Homo sapiens: one gene and its partners. The gene in region 4 interacts genetically with the main gene of each other region. Each region holds a gene or a part of one and is shown on either strand. Other genes may lie near its edges.

The links.
Region 1: changes in PRODH (region 4) and ACY1 together harm fitness less than expected from each alone (positive genetic interaction), as found in Homo sapiens cells (one large-scale study listed by BioGRID).
Region 2: changes in PRODH (region 4) and ERBB3 together harm fitness more than expected from each alone (negative genetic interaction), as found in Homo sapiens cells (one large-scale study listed by BioGRID).
Region 3: changes in PRODH (region 4) and MAP2K7 together harm fitness more than expected from each alone (negative genetic interaction), as found in Homo sapiens cells (one large-scale study listed by BioGRID).

The regions. Positions count from the first base shown.
Region 1 is NC_000003.12:51,986,458-51,989,866, reverse strand, and holds the end of ACY1 (aminoacylase-1), read right to left. Parts: coding exon 3,363-3,409; intron 3,263-3,362; coding exon 3,206-3,262; intron 2,880-3,205; coding exon 2,806-2,879; intron 2,721-2,805; coding exon 2,671-2,720; intron 2,559-2,670; coding exon 2,414-2,558; intron 2,312-2,413; coding exon 2,243-2,311; intron 1,344-2,242; coding exon 1,264-1,343; intron 1,102-1,263; coding exon 1,041-1,101; intron 957-1,040; coding exon 792-956; 3' UTR 670-791; downstream 1-669. Other genes in the region: ABHD14A-ACY1 readthrough (NMD candidate), read right to left, coding at 792-956, 1,041-1,101, 1,264-1,343, 2,243-2,311, 2,414-2,558, 2,671-2,720, 2,806-2,879, 3,206-3,262 and 1 more. UniProt on the Homo sapiens protein: Catalyzes the hydrolysis of N-acetylated amino acids to acetate and free amino acids.
Region 2 is NC_000012.12:56,097,034-56,100,699, reverse strand, and holds part of ERBB3 (receptor tyrosine-protein kinase erbB-3 isoform 1 precursor), read right to left. Parts: intron 3,656-3,666; coding exon 3,470-3,655; intron 2,916-3,469; coding exon 2,760-2,915; intron 2,201-2,759; coding exon 2,125-2,200; intron 1,942-2,124; coding exon 1,795-1,941; intron 1,053-1,794; coding exon 955-1,052; intron 863-954; coding exon 671-862; intron 527-670; coding exon 455-526; intron 1-454. UniProt on the Homo sapiens protein: Tyrosine-protein kinase that plays an essential role as cell surface receptor for neuregulins.
Region 3 is NC_000019.10:7,906,695-7,910,440, forward strand, and holds part of MAP2K7 (dual specificity mitogen-activated protein kinase kinase 7), read left to right. Parts: intron 1-3,060; coding exon 3,061-3,202; intron 3,203-3,368; coding exon 3,369-3,435; intron 3,436-3,565; coding exon 3,566-3,679; intron 3,680-3,746. UniProt on the Homo sapiens protein: Dual specificity protein kinase which acts as an essential component of the MAP kinase signal transduction pathway. Essential component of the stress-activated protein kinase/c-Jun N-terminal kinase (SAP/JNK) signaling pathway.
Region 4 is NC_000022.11:18,919,152-18,922,897, reverse strand, and holds part of PRODH (proline dehydrogenase 1, mitochondrial isoform 1 precursor), read left to right. Parts: coding exon 1-81; intron 82-493; coding exon 494-573; intron 574-1,474; coding exon 1,475-1,556; intron 1,557-3,099; coding exon 3,100-3,192; intron 3,193-3,300; coding exon 3,301-3,447; intron 3,448-3,746. UniProt on the Homo sapiens protein: Converts proline to delta-1-pyrroline-5-carboxylate.

The DNA of each region.
Region 1 (3,409 bases), on a different chromosome or scaffold from region 4:
ATCCAACTATCCCACCCCAGCCCTGTCTCTCCTGCCCCATGCTCAGGGAAGTCAGAACAGGATAGAGCAGATCTGGCTAGATCAGGCTCTGCTACTGGGGCCATAGTTTACTCTTGGTACTACCTGGGGGTCCTAGCAAGGCTGAGATGAAAGCCCAGTTCCTGGGCCTCTGCACACACAGATCCAGGGTGCTGAGGCCTCTAAGATGAACTGACCTAGTCTACCAGGGACCCTGCCCCTCTGTGGCCCCTGCTGCCAACACAAGGGTGTACAGGTTTTGACAGGAGCCAGCAGTCACCGTTGGCCCTCTGCCTGCCCCTCATCTAGCAGGGGCCCAGCTGGTGCTATTCTGGTACTGTCTCAGGATCCCAGATGTACACCCAGGAAGATGGGAGTGGTTCCTGAGGTCCTTAGTATCCCTCTTTAATGGGAATGGAATCCCTGATAGGTCAGAACTAAGTATGGTGGCCACTCAAATAGGAACTGTGGCCCTTTCTTGCTAGGCACAGACATGGCTGGATGGTACTGAATGGGTGTGCTGTGTCAAGGGGCACAGAGCAGTGTGGGGTAGTGGGGAAGTGCTAACAGCCAGGCTCAGTTTCCTCATCTGTGAAATGGAGATGGTAACATGTCCCCAGGAAAAGGAAAATTCTTGCTCCACGAGTGTCCTTGTGTTAGTACTTCAGAGACAGCCCTGTCCATAGACTTTATTATTTGGAAGGGGGAAGAGGAGGTCCTTGGCACTGGTTGGGATGGAAGCCCCAGGGGCAAAGGTTTAGGAGTTCCAGGGCTCAGCTGTCACTGGGCAGGGCAGGCACACTGGCAAGGGCAGGCAGCAGGCGTGTATATATGTCCACCCCACGGAGGAACACAGCCTCATGCAGCCGTTCATCGTGGTCGTGCAGCAGCACAGGTGTGCGGTTCATGGGTGAGAAGCCTAGAGCTGGGACCCCCACCTGCAGGGGTGAGGAAGAGCCGTTAGGGAAAAGCCAGCACTCAGGCCCAGTCCACTGCCCAGGCACTATATGCAAGTGGCTCACCGCGCGGATATAGCGGTTGTCAGTGGCAGCAGGCATGATCTCAGGCTCCAGAGTGAGGTTCCTGTAGGAGAAAGAGCCTGATGAATGGGGAGGGAGAAAGCGAAGAATTGAAGGGGCAAAGGAAGGTGGGAAAGAGGTGGGAGAAGGAGGGAGAAGGGAGGGGGCAGCAGGAAGGAGAGGAGTAGGGGGCTGGGCTGTGAGGAGAGCTGGCCAGCGTGCTCACATATCCTTGCAGACCCGGCTAAAAGCTGCCCACCAAGGGTTTGAGTCATCAGTAGGTGTCACTTGGGGGTGCATCCACTTCTGAGGGACAGGAAGAATGGCAGGATCAGGACATGGGCCTGGGCATCTTGCCCTATTTCCCATAGAGTGGGCTGTGCCTAGTACATAACACCTCCCCACCCCCACTCCTTCACCTACCCAGACATCTGGGTAGCCAGTCCAGCCACAGGTCCTCTTTCAGCCCCTCAAATGTCCTAGGTCTGGGACCTTCCCACCCTCCGTCTACTTACCTCCTGTCCATCCTTCAGATCCTAGCCCAAGTGCCCCTTCCTCAAGATGGCTCCCCCAGACCTCTCAGACTAGTTGGATACTCCAGTTACAGGTTTTCAGAGTGCAAGGGGCCACCCTTTCCTGTACCACATGGGTTATATGAAAGTACGGCTGGGCGCAGTGGCTCATGCCTGTAATCCCAGCATTTTGCGAGGCCAAGGTGGGTGGATCACTTGAGGCCAGGAGTTCGAGACAAGCCTGGCCAACATGGTGAAACACTGTCTCTACTAAAAATGCAAAAATTAGCTGGGCGTGGTGGCAGGTGCCTGTAATCCCAACTACTCTGGAGGCTGAGGCACAAGAATTGCTTGAACCCGGGAGGCGGAGGTGAGCCGAGATTGTGCCACTGCACTGCAGCCTGGGTGACGGAGTGAGATTCTCTCAGAAAAAAGTAATATCACATAAATGTTTGATTTATATCTCCCCGTTTCACCATACAAGGGCATGAACTGTGCCTAATTTTACTCCCCACAGCATTCCCCAGCACCCACAGTGGCCTCTACAATGAATGCTTGTTGGAATAAAATGTGTCTGTCACAGATAAAGAAATGCCCAGACATATGCAGACACACCAAGCACACACTCCACTGTTGCACACTTGGGTCTCCCCCGGCTCCCACACTCTCCCATCACATGTCCCAAGTCCATACCTGAGCAAACTCTAGGGTGACCCCCTCGCCAGCTGCCTGGCACCAGCTCTGCAGCTGCTCCTCAAAAGCCTAAGAGAAGGGAGACGAGCTGATCCTTCAGGCTTTCCAGAGGCCTCTAGGACAAGACTGAGGACCCAGGATCCCTCCTCCAAACCCAGGTGGAGGTGGCACCTTGAAGTCCACATCCGGTGCCACACGGAAGTCAAAGCTGGCGCTCATGGTGGCAGGTATCACGTTATAGGCCACGCCACCCTCTAGCTTAGTCAGGTTCACGGAGGTCACGGACCCCTCTTTCAGGTGGGGGTTTGACTGCAGCCTGTGGTGTGGGGGCAGGGTAGCGGCAGCAACAGATAAAAGAGGTGGCTCAGACTCTATCCTCTGTGGTACCGCCTCCCAGAGCCACCCCACTGCCTCCCAGGCTGCCTCACCTCTGCCATTCCTTCTCCCGGAATGCCAGGATGGAGTTTACAACCTTGTGCTATGAGAATATGAGGTTAAATGGGACAGTGGCCTCAGGATAGAGCCTCCTGAACTCCCAGACTCCCTCCTGGGGTGCCACGTACCAGCTTCTCTGCTGCTGTGTCCTCCATGAAGCGTGAGGCATGGCCTGGCCTCCCAGTGCTGGTAACCCGCACCCCTGGGGAGGTGTAGGGGGAAGGCAGTGTCTTCAGCCTGAGGGGCTGGAGACACAATCAGCCTGGGGTGGGCCCAGGTCTCCCCCTCATTCCAGGCTCCTCTGGCAGGGTCCTGTCCCCACTCAGGGCCCGTAGCATACAGCTGGTTTCTGCCCATTCAGGGCTTGCCCTCAGAGAAGCTCAGATAGGAAAGAGCTGGGAGGTAGAGGCCCTGGGTTCAAGGCCTTCTCAGGCCTCAACTTTGCTGTGCAACCCTGCATAGGACCGTGCCCTTTCTGGCCTAGCCTCCCGCCTGTAGAGTGAGCCCTCCCTCCAAGCTCATACTTACACCAGGGACTCCGCTCACTATAAAAGACAGTGAAGGCATCAGTGGGATTGGCTATGCCTGAGGAGGGAAAGGGGGTTCAGAGGGTGGAGCAGCTCAGTCCCCACTAGCAGCCTCCTACTCCCTGCCTGGCTGCTCATTGGCTTGCCAACCTGCTCACCCTCATCCAGGGCAAAGCCTGCCCTCAGGGCGTGGAACTCAGGCCGC
Region 2 (3,666 bases), on a different chromosome or scaffold from region 4:
AAAGTGCTAGGATTACAGGCGTGAGCCACCGCACCTGGCCTTTTTTTTTTTTTTTTAAGAGACAGGGTCTTGCTCTGTCACCCAGGCTGGAGTGCAGTGGTACAATCTCAGCTCACTGCAACCTCTGCCTCCCGGGTTCAAGCGATTCTCCTGTCTCAGCCTCCTGAGTAGCTGTGATTACAGGTGTGCACCACCACACCCAGCTAATTTTTGTATTTTGGGTAGAGACGGGGTTTCACCATGTTGGCCAGGCTGGTCTCAAACTCCTAACCTCAGGTGATCCACTCTCTCTGGCCTCCCAAAGTGCTGGGATTACAGGTGTGAGCCAACTCGCCCGGCCCTCACTGCCTTCTTTTTTGCAGGACACTGATTAAACCTCAGAGGTTTCTAATGTCTTCCATACTACTCGTATCAATCTGATCCTAAAACCCAGCCTCTCAGCAACAGAACTTACCTGGCAAGACTCCCCAAGATTACCCTGGTTCATGGGCATGTATCCAGATGATGGACTTAAAAGGCTCTGGCTCTAGGATGAAAAAATAAGGAAAAGGTTAAGATGAAGGGAGAAATCTACATTCACCATGGGGGCCTTTGAGTAGTTAATCTGGGTATCTGTAGGGTTTGTGAGGGCTCAGGGTGCAAAGTGTTGGGTAATTAGAAGTTGTCTTACCCCACGTGGCCGATTAAGTGTTCCAACTGGTAGGCTGAGGGCGGAGCCCAGTGTGGTGGTTGCCAGGTTGTCCTCCTCTGCTTCCAAGTCTAGGTCTAGGTCTAGTTCTGGCTCCAGCTCTACTTCCTCTAGCTTCTTGTTTGTCAGACCATGGGGCTCTGGCCCAGGGGCTATTCCAGGCCCACTCTCTCTCTATATCGATAGGTGATTGTTAGGGGGAATCCTGGTTCCAGCCAACTCCTCCTTTTTCTAAATTTCCTTAGCACCTCCTACTCCCTACTCACCTTTATGACCAGATACCGTGGTGGGTCTCGGGCCATCCTGGTGAACTCATTGGCTAGTTCTTTAAAGGTTGGGCGAATGTTCTCATCAATCATCCAACCTGGAGATAAGATGTAGGAGGTAGAGACATAAAAGAGAATACATTCCATGGCCGGGCGCGGTGGCTCACACCTATAATCCCAGCACTTTGGGAGGCCAAGGCGGGTGGATCACCTGAGGTCGGGACTTTGAGACCAGCCTGGCCAACATAGTGAAACCCCATCTCTACTAAAAAGACAAAAAAAAATTAGCTGGGCGTGGTGGTGCACGCCTAAAGTCCCAGCTATCTGGGAGGCTGAGACAGAAGAACTTAAACCTGGAACGTGGAGGTCACGGTGAGCCAAGGTCACGCTACTGCACTCCAGTATGGGCAACAGAGCGAGACTCCATAAAAAAAAAAGGAATAGAGCCATAAGAGGAGTACAGAGGGAAGTCAGAAAATGGCTGCAGTCAGGCCGAGCATGATGGCTCACACCTGTAATCCCAGCACTTTGGGAAGCTGAGGCAGGCGGATCACCTGAGGTCAGGAGTTTGAGACCAGCCTGGCCAACATGGTGAAACCCCATCTCTACTAAAAGTGTAACAGTTATCCAGGTGTGGCGGGCGCCTGTAATCCCAGCTACTCCGGAGGCTGAAGCAGGAGAATCTCTTGAACCCGAGAGGCGGAGGTTGTAGTGAGCCAAGATTGATTGCACCATTGCACTCCAGCCTGGGTGACAATTGTGAGACTCTGTCTCAAAAAAAAAAAAAAAAGAAAAAAAAAGAAAAAAAGAGAAAATGGTTGGGCTCAGCAGGTAACTCACACTTGACCATCACCATGTAGACATCAATTGTGCAGATCTGGGGCTGTGCCAACCGCTCCCCCTTCTCTAGCAGGTCTGGTACTTCAGCCAATCGTAGCCCTGCATAGGGCTCTGCCCCGAAGGTCATCAACTCCCAAACTGTCACACCTGTTGCAGGAAGACATGGACTAGTCACTGGCAAAATAGTAGACATGGGCATGAAGTGAAGGGAAGGCAGAACCTGATCTAACACAAAAATCTGAAGTGCTTAGAGATTCTAAGAGGGGGTCTCAAAAGGTAAATTTGAAACTGGGGCCAGTGATGGTAGAGAGGGCATCCAGATGCACTGACCATAGCTCCAGACATCACTCTGGTGTGTGTATTTCCCAAAGTGGATACTCTCAAGGGCCATCCACTTAATTGGAGTCTGCGGATTAAAGATAGAGGTATCACAAGTTTATTTCCACAAATTTTCTTAGGATTTCCAAGTCCCAAATTCTTTTTTTTTTTTTTTTGAGACGGAGTCTCGCTCTGTCGCCCAGACTGGAGTGCAGTGGTGCGATCTCGGCCCACTGCAAGCTCCGCCTCCTGGGTTCACGCCATTCTCCTGCCTCAGCCTCCCGAGTAGCTGGGAGTACAGATGCATGCCGCCACGCCTGGCTAATTTTTTTTTTTTTTGTATATTTAGTAGAGACGGGGTTTCACCGTGCTAGCCAGGATGGTCTTGATCTCCTGACCTTGTGATCCACCCGCCTTGGCCTCCCGAAGTGTTGGGATTACAGGCGTGAGCCACCGCGCCCGGCCAGTCCCAAGTTCTTGATCATTATTTTATTTGTTGCCCTCTGAACTAAAATATCTGGCATCTGCAGCCTTCTCTCCTTGAACTTACCATGAAGCATCTGCTTGCCTCTGGAAGAGACCACTGGCTGCTCCCTATCCCCATGCTTCACTCCACCCCCGCCTCCTTACCCTTTGTGTCTCCTCACCTTGGCCTCACTGTATAGCAGCTGCTTATCATCAGGAGGCAGCAGGTCAGCCACACCAAAATCTGCCACCTGAACCTGACTGGGTGACTTGAGTAGCACGTTTCGGGCAGCCAGGTTTCTATGCACCATACCATGTTCCTCAAGGTAGTACATTCCCTGTAGGTATAGGGGAAGAAAGTATTCTTAAGGTTGGGGGAATCAGTCACTGAGATCTGGAATTCCCCCAAATCTTGAAGGTACCTCTCAGCAGTGGTCCCCAACCTTTTTTGGCACCAGGGACTGGTTTTGTGGAAGACAGTTTTTCCAGGGGAAGGGGAGGGTTGGTTTTGGGATGAAATTTTTCCACCTCAGATCATCAGGCATTAGTTAGATTCTCATAAGGAGTGCACAACCTAGATCCTTCACATGCACAGTTCACAATAGAAGTCAAGCTCCTAAGAGAATCTAATGCTGCCCCTGATCTGACAGGAGGCGGAACTCGGGCGGTAATGCAAGTGATGGGGACTGACTGTAAATACAGATGAAGCTTCACTCGCTTGCCTGCCGCTCACATGCTCTGTGGCCTGGTTCCTAACAGGCCATGGACTGGTACCAGTCTGCAGCCCGGGGGTTGGGGACCTCACCTCTCAGAACTTCAACCTTCTCACTTTTTCCTGGCTGGCCCCCAGACAAGCAGTTCTTATCACAGAATTCCTCCAGGCTTCTCTCACCTTGGCAATTTGTACTCCCCAGTTGAGCAGCAGCTGTGGCCCCAGTGCCCCCCGGTGTTGTCTCACATGATCCAGCAGAGAACCCAGAGGCAAATATTGAGTGACAAGCTGCAGAGATGACCCTGGGCATAGTCCCAGCAGCCTTACAATGTGGGCATGGTCCAGGCTGCCAATGGCCAGCATATGCTAAGAGACAC
Region 3 (3,746 bases), on a different chromosome or scaffold from region 4:
GCCAACATGGTGAAACCCTGTCTGCATTAAAAATACTAGAGATTAGGCCAGGCACAGTGACTCACACCTGTAATTCCAGCACTTTGGGAGACCGAGGCGGGTGGCTCACCTGAGGTCGGGAGTTCGAGACCACCCTGACCAACATAGAGAAACCCCGTCTCCACTAAAAATACAAAATTAGCCGGGCATGGTGGCACATACCTGTAATCCCAGCTACTCGGGAGGCTGTAATCCTAGCTACTCGGGAGGCTGAGGCAGGAGAACCGCTTGAACCCGGGAGGCGGAGATTGCAGTGAGCTGAGATCGCACCATTGCACTTCAGCCTGGGCAACAAGAGCAAAACTCCATCTCAAAAAAAAAAAAAACATAAAAGATTAGGTGGAGGTTGCAGTGAGCTGAGATCGCGCCACTGCATTCCAGCCTGGGCAACAGAGCAAGACTCCGTCTCAAAAAAAAAAAAAATTTAAAAAGCGTCTTGAAGGAGTTGGGGGGGGAGAGAAGACAGGGCCGCCAGGGCTCTGAGCGCAGCGCCAGCCTGTGTGGGGCATGCAGGCTGTGCCCCACGCCTGTGTTGGGAGAGAGAGTAGATGGGGTGCCTGGCCCTGTGAGTGGTTGTGAGTATGTGTGTCCGAGGGCAAGGGGGACTCTGTCCCGGCTGCATGGGTGTTAGGTCCACGGCATGCCCCGGGTGTGTGTTGTGCGTGCGTGCACTTGCACGGCATGTGCGTGCATGTTGACATGGCAGCCGGTGCACCTGTGGCTCCTGTCGGCAGACACGTGCCCTCCAGCCTCTCGCTCTCTCTCATCCGTTCTCTTTCTCATCCTCACCCTCTTGCTCTCACTCCACCCTCCTGAGCTGCCATGTGGCCATCACCACCTCTGTGGCCTCTGTTCTCAGGGCCTTTGTGTACCTCCTTCCCCCAGTGCCTACCTGAACCCTCCCTTCCATCCCCCCATGCTCCAGTCTGTGGTCCGGCAGCCTCCTCCCCAGGCTCCGGGGCCACCCTCGGAAGGCCTGGTGGGCTCTGTCAGGGAAGGGGCCCACAGGACTCCTCGAGGGCTGTGGTCGTCAACCGCTGAGTGCAGGGTGTGAGCGGGACTCGGATACTCTCTGAGGGCGGGAACTAGGCAGTGTCTCAAGAGATGCCAGGTGCACAGGGGTTGGGGGCTGGGTTGGGGGGAGCACAGGCCCTCGGGAGCCAGAAGGGGACTGGGGCTGTGGCTCAGGCCATGGACAGAGCAGAGGCGCAGGGACCTGAAGAAGCAGAGGGAGAAGCCTGGCCAACATAGCGAGACCCCATCTCTACTCAAAAGACAAAAATTAGCTGGGTGTGGTGGCGTGTACCTATAATCCCAGCTACTCAGGAGGCTGAGGCAGGAGAATCACTTGAACCTGGGAGGGGGATGTTGCAGTGAGTTGAGATCACGCCACTGCACTCCAGCCTGGGTGACAGAGCGAGAACCTATCTCAAAAAAAAAAAAAAACAGTGGGAGGTGACGTGGTGCTGCAGAGGCGGCAGTGGCCAGGACAGCGGGAGGGGCACGGGAGGTGAGGCCTCTAGGCCAGTCATGAACGCTGGGCCTGGCTGTGTCCCAAGGTCCCCAGAGCCCTTCCCCTGCTCCTGCCTGGTCCTCCAGGAGGGGAGCTAGGGGGCACAGCTCCTGCAGGGGCTGGCAGGACCAGATAGGGGCAATGCTGGGCCTCCTGCATTGGGACTGAGGCGTCTTCCTGCCCCTCCTACTGGCTGAGATCAGGGTCCTGGGCACACGGGAGGGACGGGGTTTAGCTGCCAGCATGGAGCGGGTTTGTCTGTTCATATTAGTCCCTGGGCACCAGTCACCAGGAGCCTGCAGAACTGTGGGGAGAAAAGGTGGACGAGGCAGGAGGAAAAGAGGGGAGAGGGGCTTGTTGGCTGAGGGCTTTGGAGAGCGGCAGGCCCCAGCTCCTGTGGGAGGGGCACCTTGGTAGGTGTGTGTAGCCGTTGTCAGGGCCTCTAGGATGTGACGTGTCAGGATTGGCTCCTCTGGAGGCCACGTTAGCATCCCGGCCTCTGTTCCTGCACCCTGTTGCCAGCCCAGCCAGGGAGACCCTAGCTCCTCCGGGAAGCTGCCCTCCTGTCCCAGGCCCCTCTCTGGCCTGTCTCTGCAGCGCCTCCTCTGGGCACCTGGGCCCTAGTCTTGGTTCCTGTCTGTCTGTCTGTCTCCTGCCCTCCCACCCCTAATGCCGCCTGCCCACCCCAGGGTGCCTGCTGCCTGCCCGCCGCCTGCCCACCCGCTGTAGCATGCCCGAGCTGCCCGCATGCAGGCTGCTGGATGAGCCAACCCCCGCCTGGCCCAGCATTGGCCCCACCTGGTCCCGCCAGCCCCTGCAGGAGCTGTGCCCCCGAGCTCTCCTCCCAGAGGATGCAGGCCCCCTGAGGTCCTGTCCTGCCCCCATGGGCCCCAGCTCTGCAGGCCAGGCCAGGAGGCCCTCATGTCAGCCCACTGGCCCGAGGGGGGCCCTCCCTGACCCCGGAACAGAAGATAGGGCAAGGCAGCCTGAAGCCTGGGTCTCGTGCCCGCTGCCTCCCCAGCGTGGCCCTGCTCGCTCTTGTCTGGGAGCCAACTTCAGTGCTACCAGCAGAGCCACAGCCTGGGCCAGCCCTGGCAGGCACTCCGCCCTGGCCTATCCATCCTGTGGGTGCTGTGGCCCTGGGCCTGCTTCCTGGGCAGAAGTGGGAGGAAGTGCACACACCTGTCAGGGAGGCCCCCTGGCCGAGGGACACCTCAGGTCCCCATCTCGTTTCTCCGTCAGCGTAGACTTGGGGCTCCCTCTCCCCTGCTAGCCTCCTCCATCTCTTTCCAGGTCAGGGGATGAGACAAGGGACCCTGAGAACAGTCTGGGGTGGGAGGGAGACCCCAGCTCCTCCAGCCCAGCAGGGCAGGGGGCTGTGCCAGCCTAGCTCGGGAAACCCAGGAGGGGAAGGTGAGGGTCCCGACCCCTCCCTGGAGTGCCAGATGTGGAGCTGACACCAGCTGGGCGCTGACCCCCCTCCCTGCCACTGGTTCTCACCCCCCTAGCCCTGCAGCTCCCGCTGGCCAACGATGGGGGCAGCCGCTCGCCATCCTCAGAGAGCTCCCCGCAGCACCCCACGCCCCCCGCCCGGCCCCGCCACATGCTGGGGCTCCCGTCAACCCTGTTCACACCCCGCAGCATGGAGAGGTGAGCCAGGGGCCCAGCAGGGTTGGGTGGGAAGCAGCATTGAGGGGCCACCGTGCCAGCCCTGGGAGGAGGGTGGTTAAACCGGTGGGAACCCCGGTATGGGGGACTGGGGTGGCCAACCTAAGGTCAGGACCCACCTCCACCGGCACCTGCTCCATGTCCCCAGCATTGAGATTGACCAGAAGCTGCAGGAGATCATGAAGCAGACGGGCTACCTGACCATCGGGGGCCAGGTACCACCTTCACTGTGGCGGGGAGAGGGAGGAGGCCCAGCCAGGCTGGACCCATCCTGGGAGCGCCAGTGGGGGGCAGGGGGCGGTGGCAGAGGCCCCAGGGACCCTCCAACCCTCCCTCTCCTCCCAGCGCTACCAGGCAGAAATCAACGACCTGGAGAACTTGGGCGAGATGGGCAGCGGCACCTGCGGCCAGGTGTGGAAGATGCGCTTCCGGAAGACCGGCCACGTCATTGCCGTTAAGGTGAGCCTTGGCGGCTACCCCGGCTGCGCCCCACACCCCAGGCCGGTGCTGAGGCTCCCTCCTGTCC
Region 4 (3,746 bases):
TTCTTTCACCAAATGGCTGTGGAGCAAGGGCAGGCGGGCCTGGCTGCCATGGACACCAAGCTGGAGGTGGCGGTGCTGCAGGTGGGGCAGCCTTCCCCTTCCCCACTCCTGTGGCTTGTGAGGGGGTGGGCACCGTGGGGTCACACGGGGCATGGTGGGCAGTGGTCGGAGGTGGTTTTGGGAACTCACCCAGGGCATGTGGCTCACTCTGCAGCTGCTGGGGTTGGCCTGGTGGGGAGGAGGAGGTCAGAGGGACTCTGAACAGAGAGGGGAGATGCTGGCAGGAGGGCTGGAGACCCAGCCCTGCAGGGCGTGGGCGTGCATCAGCAGCGGGGTGGGAATAGACCTGTCTATGCAGTAGAAACAAACCAGACATGGATCCTGTTCTTACTAACGATGTAATAAAGCCAGAAACAGCACCAGAGGCCAATGGGTGGGGGGAAGGATAAAATATGAGTGAATGGGGCTGATCCAGGCCTTCTCACTTCTCAAGGAAAGTGTCGCAAAGTTGGGCATCGCATCCAGGGCTGAGATTGAGGACTGGTTCACGGCAGAGACCCTGGGAGTGTCTGGGTGAGAGCAGCCCCCAGGCTGAGAGGACACGAGCATCAGCCATGGTTCCAGCCAAGCCCCAGTGACGTCTCCCAGTCCTGGCTGCCCTGCCTGAGAGGGTGGGCCCTGGGATGACAGTGCTGAAGGAACTGCTTTTCACACAGCAGGACTTGATGGCTTCAGGAGTCCCTGAGGCTGGGGCTGGGCTGGGCAGGGGAGACACAGGGCCAGCACAGACCCCATAGAGGGCTCTTTATAGAATTATCTGGGTCCAGAGCAAAGGTGGCACTCTCAGCCCTCCCTGGAGTCCACGCCGGCAGGTGAAGGATCAGAGCCCCATGCCCCATCCTTGGAGCCAGGGGCTGGGACCCAGATCACCAGGAGCCTCCAGTTGAAGTGGGGAGGTGACTGGGGTGGTGCAGTAGTGAGCCATCCCCTCACACACTGCCAGCCTTGCCCACTGTGTCCTCCCTGGCCGCCCGGAGCTGTGTCCGCCTCCTGCCTGGCTGCCTGTGCTCGGCCCCTCCACAAGCCCAAAACAGCCTAGGGTACTCAGTGTTTTCAGAGCCGCCTAGATGCAGGACTGTTTGTGTTTTGGTTTTAAATTTATTTAATTAATTTATTTTTTATAGAGACCAGGTCTCACCATGTTGCCCAGGCTGGTTTCAAACCCCTGGGCTCAAGTGACCTGCCCGCCGCAGCCCCCAAAGTGCTGGGATTATAAGTTTGAGCCCCCGCATGCCACTGGTTTTAAATTTTTAAACAGAAAACAATATTTATATTTCCTCTGTCTTTTAAAACTGAACACCGAGGTGGGTTTTGTGGTGGGTGGTGAACGGACAGGTTTGGGCCTCGATCCCCCACCCGACCCTAGCACCCACAGGTGGGGGTGCCCCCTCTGCTGATGCGCCTCCTCCCTCAGCACCATGGACCTGCTGGACTGGAGCAGCCTCATCGACAGCAGGACCAAGCTGTCCAAGCACTTGGTAGTCCCCAACGCACAGGTAACACCTCCGCTCCTCAGTGAGGCCCAGCTCAGCAGGGCGCTGCGCTAAGAAGGGAATTCAGCCTGCCACGTGTGTCTCTTGTTGCCTACCCTGGGAACTTAACATGACCAAAATCACTGCACACTATGGCCCCACAGACCCCCTGTGGTCCAGGGGGAAGAAGACAAGCCCACTAGTGTCCACAGAGTGCTTGGCGGGACAGAGACCCACGCGGAGCCTTAAGACACCACAAGGAGAGGGGGTCTGGGGGCCTTCCCCAAGTCATCTGTCTTGTGCATCAGGTCACCCCAAACTTCAGAGGCCTGAAACGGCAGCAGCCACTCTGCTTCTGCCTCATGGTTCTGGGGTTGACAGGGCTCAGCTGGGCAGTCCTCCCCTGGGGTCTCCTGGGTAGCTGTACTCACAGAGTGGTGGCGCTGGGACCTGGGGGAGGCACCCATTCACATGTCTGGGAGTTGGTGCTGGCTGTGGCTTGGGCTTTTTCCCAACATGGCAGCTGGGCTCTAAGGGCCAGTGTCACCTGAGACGTGAGAGCCAGGCAGAAGCTGGGTGACCTTTTCCTGCCTCGCCTCAGAAGTCACACGGTGTCTTTTCTGGCAAGTTCTGTTTGTTAGAAGCATGTCACCAGGCCAGCCTGTATACAGCGGGGAGAGGAATGAGACTCATCTGCCTGTGGGAGGGGGGCCCAGGACCTGGCAGACTGCTTGAAACCACAGCTTAAACTGGGATTCAAAGAAAGAACAGAAGCACCTTCAGAAAACATCCTGCAGAGGCAGCTTTCCATGACACATCTAGCCCCAGTCCACTAAGGGCCCAGCCTCAAACTTAGAGCCCCCGACCCAGAGCCTCGGGGCGCAGTGCGTACAGTGTGGCTGTGCACCAAGGCCACCAGCTGTTGGAGACTTTAGCATGGTGTAGCAAGGGATAGAGTGGTACTGTTTGTGCCCAGTGAGGCAAGGCTGCTGGGGCCAGCAAAGGGGTGAGCGGGAGGCCCTGCGGGATGGGTCCCCACGGCCTCTGAGCACCAGCAACTTGAAGGCCTCATCCTGGTGGTTGCCCTGGTCCCTGGCTACGTGTCAGCACGTGCTGCACAACTGCCCTGTCTGCCTGTAGCCAGGGGTCTTCCTCCTGGGCCCTCTGCCTGCTCCGGGTGGAGCCCTTCTGTTTGACGATTGGGTGATCAGTGTTCACTTGTTCAATGTCACATGGGAGTTGCAGGGGGCTCTCCCACAACGGTGGGGCCTCTGTGGGAACTGGGGAGTACACACTTCGGAGTGCAGGCCTGGACTGAGCCTGGGGCCCACTGACATGGGCACTGAGCTCCCTCGTGGTACCCCTAGGCCCCGCATAGGGCAGTGCACTGGCTGCGTTGGAGGTTCAGGGGCACTGTGCTGCTTGTCCAGGTGGCCCTCCCTCCCAGCCCTGCACAGACGGGTGAGAGGGTTCCTGTGGGCTGGGAATACTGAGAGAGGTTTAGCCTGGGCCTCAGGGTGGCACTTTCCCGCCCTTGCTGTGGCCTGACCGCGTGTTGCACCCCCAGACAGGACAGCTGGAGCCCCTGCTGTCCCGGTTCACTGAGGAGGAGGAGCTACAGATGACCAGGATGCTACAGCGGATGGATGTCCTGGCCAAGGTGAGCTGTCCCGCTCGGGCAGAGGGTACCTGGGACTCGTGGAGAAGAGGGCACCTGCCTCACTTGAGCAACAGTTGCTCCCACTCTCCCACCCCCTGCGCCTCTCAGAAAGCCACAGAGATGGGCGTGCGGCTGATGGTGGATGCCGAGCAGACCTACTTCCAGCCGGCCATCAGCCGCCTGACGCTGGAGATGCAGCGGAAGTTCAATGTGGAGAAGCCGCTCATCTTCAACACATACCAGTGCTACCTCAAGGCAAGCCCCCGCTCAGCCCCTCCCTGCCTGCCCTGGGGCTTGGAGACCCCACAGGAGGGGCTCCTCTCATCTGAGCTCCCTGGCATTTGGCTGGTTTTACACTCAGCACCCACCAGGGAGCTCATGGGATGGAGGAGGGAGTGGGCCGTGCCCCCAAGGGGTTGTTGGGGTCTTCTGCAGCACAGCTCACCCAGCGGGCCCCAGGGTCCAGGAAAGAGCCCCTTAGGTGGTGGCCACAGCCAGGCCTGCAGAGGAGGCTGAGGCCAGGGTGACTGCCTCAGAGTAGCAAGAAAGACCCG